Linked DNA regions of Homo sapiens: region 2 is linked to region 1. Evidence: fine-mapped expression QTL. A gene starts in region 1. The other region holds a variant in brackets. All regions are shown on one strand. Distances are from middle to middle.

Region 1 (5,385 bases):
ATGATATCTTAATATTGTCTAGCATGTTACGTGAGACCCTATAACCTGCCCTTTCTAAACACCTCTTACCAAGTCACCCCATGATCACCATGGAATGTGGGCTTCCTTGCTGCAGAAATCTACAATCGTCTCTGGTTACAGATATGTTCCTGGTAGTATTTGGCTGATGGCCACCAACAAAGCAAACAGGAAAAATGTAAACAATCGGCAAATTTGGGTAAAGAGTATATGAGAATTCCTTATACTATTTTTGCAACTCTTCTACAGCTTTGAAATGATATAAAAATGAAAGGTTTTCAACTATCAGGAAATAGTCATAAGGATGATAACAATGGGGGCTGGGCGCCGTGGCTCACACCTGTAATCTCAGCACTTTGGGAGGCCGAGGTGGGCGGATCACAAGGTCAGGAGATCGAGACCATCCTGGCTAACACAGTGAAACCTCGTCTCTACTAAATATACAAAAAAATAGCCGGGCATGGTGGCCGGCACCTGTAGTCCCAGCTACTCAGGAGGCTGGGGCAGGAGAATGGTGTGAACCCGGGAGGCGGAGCTCACAGTGAGCCGAGATCGCACCACTGCACTCCAGCCTAGGTGACAGAGCGAGACTCCGTCTAAAAAAAAAAAAAAAAAAACACAAATGGGAATAATATTGGATGAGCATGACATAATATGGCAGTTTACTAGTTTATTCTCTATTAGCAGTATTTAAAAATTTCCATAGTTAAAGAAATATGGGAAAACACATTAAGATATTATAACAATTTTTTTAAATGCTTATAAATAAATATACAATAGACACAGAGAAAGACTAAAAAGAAACGGAGGAGAACTGGAAGTTCCATCTCTTGTATCAGACAGTTAGCACCTTCACATCTTGGATTCATGGGTAATTTAAAACATGTTTTCTCCTCCTATTAATCTAATTTTAAAATGCTCCACAATGATATGGTTCCACAATACAAAATCCTTATAAAAAGTGAAACAGGATGTTGACAAATTTTTAAAAGACTCCTACAGAAGTCCAAGTCTATGAGCCTTGCTCTCAAGGTCCCTTCAATCAAGTCCTAACTCTCTTTCCCCACCTGATTCCAGCTAGTTCCTCTACCTCAATGAAAATGTATCCAAGGGATGATCAACTCAGGCTCTGACCCAAACTGCCTAGGTTCCAGCTCCAGCTGTACCTCATTCTACTGGGAACTAAGCACCAGGTGTCTCACTCCCATATTTAAAATGGAAAAGAGCGACCGGGCGCGGTGGCTCACGCCTGTAATCCCAGCATTTTCGGAGGCCAAGGCGGTCGGATCACGAGGTCAGGAGTTTCAGACCAGCCTGACCAAAACGGTGAAACCCCATCTTTACTAAAAATACAAAAATTAGCTGGGCGTGGTGGTGCGCACCTGTAATCCCAGCTACTTAGGAGGCTGAAGCAGGAGAATCGCCTGAACCTGGGAGGCGGCCTATTGCACTGAGCCCAGATCGCGCCACTGCACTCTAGCCTGGGCGACAGAGCGAGACTCCGTCTCAGGAAAAAAAAAAAAAAAAAAAAAAGAAAAAGAGCAATACCTTTCCACAGAGCCATGGTGTGGCGTAAATGTATTTATTTCCATAAAGCCCTTAGAATTAAGTTACCAATTAAGGTTTAATTATTATCAACACCCATGCCCAAGGACACATCCTATACACTCTTGGTTGAGGTGAACATCTCTGTAAAAGAAAAAACCGGCCCGGCGCGGTGGCTCACACCTGTAATTCCAGCACTTTGGGAGGCCGAGGCAGGCGGATCACTTAGGACCACAGGTTCGAGACCAGCCTGGCCAACATGGTGAAACCCCGTCTCTACTAAAAATACAAAAATTAGCCGGGCATGGTGACGCATGCCTGTAATCCCAGCTACTCCGGAGCTGAGGACAGAGAATCGCTTGAACCCAGGAGGCGGAGGTTGCAGTGAGCCAAGATCGCGCCACTGCTGCACTCCAGCCTGGGAGACAGAGCAAACCTCATTCTCAAATAATAACAATAATAAAAACAGACTAACAAAATAAATAACTTTTTTTTAAAAAGAGAAAAGCCAAAGACCACTCGTGTAGACAGCTTTGTCCTCAGTAGCCAAGTCCCTCCCTGCAGCTCTTTTAGAAAAGTCAGGCTGGGGAAGGAGAAAGCTGTCAAACACTCTGCGTCGCCGTCCCGGATACAAGTTAAATGCTCCTCTCCCTTCGTGAAACGTGGATGCAACCCACGCCTTCCTAAAAAGAGGTCAGAGGCGTCCGGGATCATCCAGAGCCCTGCCGGGCTCCAAGAGAAGGGCCGGAGCAGCTGGAGCTCTGACCCCACCCGGGCACCTGACCACTTCGCGGGAAATTAACAGGACACCAAGTGACAGGAGCTGTTAAGTCTTTGTTTTATACCACAACTTTCAACTCCTAAAACAATTCTATCAGGATGGTCCTGAAATCCTCATTTAAAAAACGGCAATGGGAGGTACAGGGAGATTAAGTAACACCCCACGTTATATCGCGAGAAAGAGGTCGCACACTTAAGAGTGGAGGGAGGCGGACTGAACGAGGTCAAACACCTGGAAAACCCTCTAAACAGGCACACAAGACTAGACAGAGTTCTTCCCCGCCCCCCCCGAACCCCCGACGACTCCTCCGGTGGACCTGAGTACAGCCCCCAACGCCAGAAGGCTCCATCGACGGCAACGAAACTTCCCTCCCACCCCTCGCATCTCCAAACCTCAGGTCTTCTCCAGGGCTTCTTACCCCCTTAGTTGACCCCCCAGGTCGTTAGGCGCCCCTAATAACTGGTTCACTTTCGCAAAGACCCGCAAGACACATACTTGGCTCAAACCACCTTGTTAAGTAGCAGTGTCCTGCTCGGAGACCGGAAGTGTCGATGATGCCACAGGCGTCTGGACTACACTTCCCAGAATCCCCCGAATCCGCCTGCCTGAGCCAAAGTTCCCACGACTCCACAGAGCAAATGGACTCCACTTCCCAGAATTCACAGGTCCTCCTGCCTGGGCCAAAATTCCCACGCCTCCCAAGCTACTCGCGAAACGCCTGCGGGAGCCAAATTTCCTGCGCATCGACCGGGCAATTAGACTCCCGCAGGCGTTTCGCTGGTATCTTGGGAAATGGAGTCCATTTGCTCTGTGGAGGCGTGAGAATTTTGGCTCAGGCAGGTGGACCTGTGAATTCTGGCCTATCAACCTATATTTTTATTTTAAAAAAATGGAGTCTCATGTTCTATATCAATTTTTCTAAACTAAAAAAGAATACTTTTCATGGTTTTCTTTAGATAAAGTGACTGTGCCAACCACAGTATGAGGAACACTTCTCTGAAAATTGAGTGACTGCTATTTCTAAACCAGTTACAGCTGTATCCTTGCTCTGTTCTGCCCTCCCAAGAGATAAAAATTTATTGACACGCTCAATCGTAGTAGGCAGGAAACTGTGCCTAATATATTAGGGTATATCTGGCATCAAAGGCCCTTTCTGTCCCCCAGGTCCTTGCACTCTGGGCCTGTGATGGGAGGAGAAGCTGCCATAATCTGTGAAATGCCTTTGGGGTCATTCTTCCATTGTCTTGGACAATAGGTCCTGGCTTCAGTTGACATGGCCAATCCATACTAAATTCATGAATTAGTTAGTTGCTTAACCATACCCTTGTATTCTTCAGGTTTCCTGTTTTTTTTTTTTTCCAAAGTAGATAGGCTGTAAACTTTTAAAAATTTTAGTTCTGTTTCCCTTTTAATTAATAATTATTTCAGTCATTCCTCACTTCGTGCCTTTCACTACGGGTAGTCAAGATGATTCAAGCAACTTCAACACTTTGATTAGAAATTAATTCAGATAAACAATTATATCATTCACAAATTCTACCTTCCATAAAACACTAGCACCTGAATATAATTCAGCCAAATTCTTTGTCCCTTTATAACAAGAAGCTCTCTTCTCTTCCAATAACATGTTCAACATTTCTGACTGAGGTCTTCAGAATGGCCTTTACTGTCCATATTTCTACCAACATTCTGATCATGACTACCTAGGTATGCTCTAACAAGATTGATGTTTTCTCTACAGTTCTTATTCTCTATTTCTGAGCGCTAACCAGAATTGTCCTTATCAGTCCATTCATGGCAATGTAGGCTTTTCCTAGCATACATGTAAAAACTCTTCTAGACTCTATCCATTACATAGTTCCAAAGACTGCTACATTTTTAGGTATTTGTTGCAGCAGCAAGCCCACCTCTCAGTACCAATATTTTTTAGTCACAAAATATCATAGCCTGCCTGGCTTTTATTTTATTTTATTTTATTTTATTTTATTTTATTTTATTTTATTTTATTTTATTTTTGAGACGGAGTCTTGCTCTGTCGCCCAGGCTAGAGTGCAGTGGCGCGATCTCGGCTCACTGCAAGCTCTGCCTCCCAGGTTCATGCCATTCTTCTGTCTCAGCCTCCCGAGTAGCTGGGACTACAGGTGCTCGCCACCATGCCCGGCTAATTTTTTTGTATTTTTGGTAGAGAAGAGGTTTCACCGTGTTAGCCAGGATGGTCTCGATCTGACCTTGTGATCCGCCCACCTCGGCCTCCCAAAGTGCTGGGATTACAGGCGTGAGCGACCACGCCCGGCCGGCTTTTAAGCAACAGAAATCTATTCTTCACAGATCTGGAAACTGGGATCCAAGATCAAAGCACTGGCAGATTTTGTGTCAGGTAGTTGGCCACTTTCTTGTTCATAGTTAGCACCATATTGCTGTGTCTTCATTTGGTTGAAGTGACAAACAAGCTCCTTCTGGCATTTTTTATAAGGGTATTCATCCCGTGACCTAATCACCCTCCAAAGGCCCCACCTCCTATTACCATCACATTGAGGGTAAAAATTACAATATATGGATTTTGGTGGGCCACAAACATTAAGACCATTGCATACGCATCATGCAGTGTCAGAGTTACTAATTCATATCATTGTAAAAAACAATGCAAAAGTAGAGTTCAACATTTTTTATAGTTCTTTTTGTCTTTAGACTGAGGATATATAGTCAAACACTGTACTGTTTAATAAGTTGCTTAAATTACTTCTTGCTGTCACCTTTAGACTGTTTATGTTATTGATTTGAAATACATTTAGGTTAATTTGTTATTCTATGATTTTCACTTTCCTAGTTTATCTACAAAGAAATCTCATTCTTGATTTTATATTATTGGGTATGTCAGTCATCAACATGTTCCCATGAGTCAATGCTCTACCACATATTATTCTCAGAGAAGTGCCACTCCCCTCCTTCCTACCCCTAAACCAATTCCACAGTGTTGCCACCTAACACCTTTATGTAACTAATTTTATTATTTTCATTACCACTTTTTTTTAACAGAATAG
Region 2 (5,385 bases), 170 kb after region 1:
TATTACAATGTGAATTCTTCAGTATTACAAACACGGCTTTGGTAAGCATTACTGTACCCACATCTTTGTCTTTCATGCCAGCATTTTTGTAGGCTAGATTCTTGTATGTAAAAATGCTGGTTGCTTAGGGGTTTGCTTTCACACTTCGTGAATGCTACTACACAAAACTGTAAAAGAGCTGTAGTCATTTCCACCCACTACGTGTGAAAGCTCTCATTTCCCCACATTCTCAACAATATTGTGTACCATCTACATTTTTAGTTTTTGAAATTTGATAACTGAAAACGAAGTATGCCATCTGTTTCCGTTATCAGTTTATTGCTCTCACCTCCGCACGCACTCTTCAATATACGCTCCCTGCTAAAGGGATTCCCCCGAAGGGTTCCTGCGCCTACGCACTCGGAGCACAGGTTACAACTTCCAGAAACCCTTGGGACGCGCCGTCCCAAACTTGGGTTTCTGGCGTCTCCTGCGTTTCCGGCCCGGGACTACAATTCCCACAGGTCACTGGGCCGAATGAGCGTGCGCTCCTGATCCGCTTTGCGCATCCCAGTGATTCTTGGGTTCCGCGTGTAGTTTCGGAAGGAGACATCGAAGCAGGGCGAGGCGCAGAGGGCGTTGCGGACTCATGCCCCAGTCGGCAGTGCGGGTAAGGGTGGGAGAAGCAATGAGGCGAATGCGAGCAGCCGAAGAAGGCGACAGTGTGGCTGGGTATGAAGACTTGAGGGAGGGGGTGGGGCAAAACGAGGTCAGGCGTCTCCCTGGCCGCGTGTGATGGACCGTCCGTGGTGGTGACAGACATGGTGTAGGGGGTGTGTGCAATATTATGTGCGTGATAGAGCCAAGGATGTGCCCTACCGTGCGAATGGTGACGTTGCGTCTGTATGAGAGTGCACGTGCCACGGCTGGGATGTCTTGTGACACAGGGAATGGGGTGTGTGTGCATCTGTGCACATGAAATGGCCAGGGTATGTCTTCGTGACTGCATGTGTGCTCATGACACAGCAGGTGTGTTTCTCTTTGTATGACAGACTGTGTGTATGTGTCAAAAAGAAGAAAGTGCTTGGTGTATGACAGGACTGGAATGAATCTGTGACTGTGACACAAGTGTGTGGGTTTGTGTGTAGAGTGACAGCTGGAGTGTGCCCTAGACAATCGAGCTTTCCTACAGGAATGGTGAAGTCTTTTCCTTCTCTAGCTACACAGTATTGTCCAATAATTGAAGTTTTTAGGACCCAGAAGTTGCTAATTTGGGCCTTCTGAACTGGAATTGGGTCAGGAACTGGATCAGTGGGCACCAACTCTCTAGCTTCCCAAGGCCATCAGTCTCCCATAGTGGTTCCCTCACATACATAACAGAAAGTAACATTGAGGAAATGAGCTACACTTTCCGCTAGCTGGAGAAACAAGTTCTTTTGTCCTTTTTGGAAGCTCTGGTGTTGGCAGATTCGGCTCATCATAAAAAGTTTGAAACACTGGTTTGGGAGAGTGCCTGTGTACCTCCCCTCAAACTAAAAAGGCAACTTGGGGGTTTAGCCCTGACCCATCGATCTCCAGGGTTACACGTTCTCCTTTTTTCCAACGGGGGTCTAGGGGATTAGTGGGTCATGAGTTAGAGGCCTGTGAAAATTGTGCCTATTGACCATGTGTTATTTAAGCTACTTAGAAAAAGGACAGAAAAGACCCGGTTCACCTTCAGAAAAAGGAAGCCAATCCCTCCTGTGCTACCGGTCACTGTAACCCGCTAGAACTAATAATCACTAATCTCCTAGACCCCTCGGGAGGCTGAGGCAGGAGACTCGCTTGAACCCTGGGGGTGGAGATTGCAGTGAGCTGAGATCATGCCACTACGCTCCAACCTGGGCAACAAGAGCAAACTCCATCTCAAAAAAAAAAAAAAAAAAAGAAGAAGAAGAAGAAGGGAAAAATGAAAAGAATGAAGGCTATGTCCAACTTGAAGTTAGAACACAGAATAATAGAATAAATACAAAGAAAGTTGGTTGAGGTCAACAATAAGCACAAGTTAAAGAAATAGAAAACACTGATGCAATAGAGGCTAAATGCCAACAACTGCTTATTTGAAGTGATCCATTTCTGAGATAATTAAAAAATAGATTATTTCAAAAGATGAATAAAAAAGAGAACAGGCACAAATAATATTAAGAAAGAAAAAGACTACACAAGAATAGAAAATATTTTTTGAATTAGAATAAATTTGAAAACAGATGAAATGGTCAATTTCCTAGAAAGCTATAACTTAAAGAATTGACAAGAAGAGACAGAAACTTTTAATAATAGACAATTAGTCATTAATGATACAGCATCAGTAGTTTAGAATTTAAACTCTAATCATCACCAGGCTCAGATAATTGCATGCAAGAGTTGAATTAAGAAAGAGTTCAGACACATCTTATGTGTCACTTCAGATCCTCTCAGCCTCACCTGTGCCTGGGGCCTCTGGAAACTTGTTTCTCTTGATTCACTGCTGCAGCAACATCCCTGCATGAACTCAGAACAACTCTACATGGGCACAAGCAGCAACGAAACCTGACCTCATGCCTGCAATGGGCACTACTTGTCTCA[A/G]GCCCCAGGGCTTTCCTGTTGATGCTGATGCATGAGACGTTACAGAACCCATTGAACTATTCACACGCGACCTGGAAGTACAGCGGAGTTAATAGTCTCTGGGACAAACATTTCATGAACCAGTGGATGAATTCACCTCCCTTCTTCTCCTCAGCTAGGTGGTCTTAAAACACAAAATTAAACAATCAATTACACTTGATAGCAAGCAGTGGCCAGCTCAGTAAGACCTTCATACAAGTGTTGTCTCCTTCCCTACCACACTATACTTTTCCCTCTCTCCTGCTTCCCTGGAACTGTACCGGCTGATAAAATAATAGCACAGAAACTTCTTCTCAGGGTCCTCCCTGTAGGCAATGTAAGCTAAGAGGAGTGTTTCCAGGAGAGACCCTCAAGATCCTTGTGATAGGATTTCAAGCTTGTTACTTATCCATGTTTGGCCCAAGTCTGATCTCACAGTGAGTTCAGTAAGTCCATGAACTCACCCTATGGTTGTTTTCCTCTATCCTTTAACATATATTTGGGATAGATATGCTCATCTTCTGGTAGAACTCATTATAGTGGCTTCCTAACTTGTGAACTAAGAGTACTTATGGGCTGGGCGCAGTAGTTCATGCCTGTAATCCCAGCACTTTGGGAGGCCAAGGCGGGTGGATCATGTGGTCAGGAAATAGAGACCATCCTGGCCAAAAAGGTGAAACCTCATCTCTACTAAAATAAAAAAATTACTTGCGTGTGGTGGTGCACACCTGTAATCCCAGCTACTTGGGAGGCTGAGGCAGGGGAATAGCTTGAACCTGGGAGGCAGAGATTGCAGTGAGCTGAGATGGCGCCACTGCACTCCAGCCTGGTGACAGAGTGAGACTCCATCTCAAAAAAAAAAAAAATAAATAAAGTCCTTATGGTATAAAGAGCCAAGTGGAAACCCTTGAAACTCAATACTGTGCTGTGGGAGGAATTGCAGAGATTGCATCATCATCAAAATTTAGAGGATGCAGGATTATTTGTCCCTATCATACCTCCATTCATTTCACTTGGCCCCTGCAAAAAACCTGCATGACTGAAGCTAGTGGATGTGGTAGATTGAAAAAAAATCCCACAAATTCTTCCCATTCCTGTGTGTATATTCTTTGCAACATGACTTTGCAGCTCTTCCCTTCAAAGGTGGAGTCAATTTCTCCACTCCTTGAATCTGGGAATGTGCATTTGATTTTCTTTGAGACAGTAGTAAATGTGACATATAGAGGTTTGAAAAACACTCACTGAATGGAAACTGCTTTCTTGTTGCATTTTGAACCCAGCTCCCATGGGTTCATGCAAGCGTGAACTAGACTGAGGGATGATGAGAAACATAAGGCCAAGTCATTCTCATGCCCCCTCCCCCACAATAACCAACCAACCATTAGAACTTTGAGTGAGGCCTGACTATACTATGCAGCTGCAGCCAAACCAGCCCAGAGCAAAAGAAATGCTCAGAAAGCCCCCAGAATTGTGAGAAATAATATTCGTAATTTCAAGCCTCTGAGTTTTGGGGTTACTGATTGTTTTCGTCTGTTTTCATGCTGCTGATAAAGACATACCCAAGACTGGGTAACTGATAAAGAAAAACAGGTTTAATGGACTCATAGTTACACATGCCTGGGGAGGCCTCACAATCATAGCAGAAGAGCAAAAGAGAACAAAGAGACATCTTACATGGCAGCCAGCAAAGAGAATGAGAGCCAAGCAAAAAGGGTTTCCCCTTATAAAACCATCAGCTCTGATAATACTTATTCACTATCATGAGAACGGTATGGGGGAAACCACCCCCATGATTCAGTTATCTCTCACCGGGTTCCTCCCACAACATGTGGGAATTATGGGAGCTACAATTCAAGATGAGATTTGGGTGGGGACACAGCCAAACCGTATCACTTATTATGTGGCCAAAGCTAATTCATAGTGACTACTTTAAATGTAAACAAATAGCAGCTCCAATTTCAGCTGCTATGTCAGATGTGACATCTTTACTGGAGTTGACCAACCTAGTTTTTGGTCCTTAGTATGTGCTTAATGATCTGACAAATGTATTTTACTTGATCTCTGACATTTAGGAGAATTAAAAGCCATTCATGTGTGCATGGTAAGGACTGCAGCACTGTCTTGCCCCAGGTTCCTGATAACCCTCCTAATCTCCGTCATATTGTAGTCCACAGAGGCCTTGATCATCTTTACATTCTGAAGAACATAGCACTGGTTCATTCCACCAATAAAATCATGCTAATTTGACCTGGTGATCAGGAAGTGGCAATCACTGTAGAAGCCATAGTAATGCAAATGAGTGACAGAAAGAGGGAGATAAACCTCATGAATGTTCACTAACTTACCACATCAGTGAAGATTTTAGAAGTCCAATCATCTGGGACATGCCATAGTATCTCCCTTAAGGTAAAGAATAAGTTATTACAACTCACACTTCCTAAACTGATAAACAGGCACATAATTTGGTAGGGCTCTTTGACATTTGAAAGTGATAGATACATGATAGGTAGATAGATAGATAGATAGATAGATAGATAGATAGATAGATAGATAGAGTGGGGCGTGGTGGCTCACACCTGGAATCCCAGCAGTTTGGGAGGCCAAGGCGGGTGAATCGCTTGAGGTTAGGAGTTCGAGACCAGCCTGGCCAACATGGTGAAACTCCATCTCTACTAAAAATACAAAAATTAGGCATGGTGGTGCACACCTGTAGTCCCAGCTACTCAGGAGGCTGAGGCAGGGGAATCGCTTGAAGTCGGGAAGCAGAGGTTGCAGTGAGCTGAG

The links. PIP is the estimated chance that this variant, and not a neighbour inherited with it, causes the effect. A credible set is the group of variants that fine-mapping cannot tell apart.
Region 2: its variant is the best candidate, but not a certain one, in a credible set for the expression of ZNF155 in whole blood (INTERVAL, PIP 0.50).

What each region holds. Positions count from the first base shown.
Region 1 is chr19:43,981,700-43,987,084 of GRCh38, reverse strand. It overlaps ZNF155 (zinc finger protein 155), which reads right to left and starts at 2,897. Exons shown (of 5, transcript NM_198089.3): 1 at 2,840-2,897. RefSeq lists a silencer at 3,001-3,200.
Region 2 is chr19:43,815,804-43,821,188 of GRCh38, reverse strand. It overlaps a transcript of LYPD5 not described here. Among named protein-coding and RNA genes, the nearest start is that of ZNF283, 8.8 kb to the left of the region's middle. The variant A/G (reference allele first, on the strand shown) is at 2,584.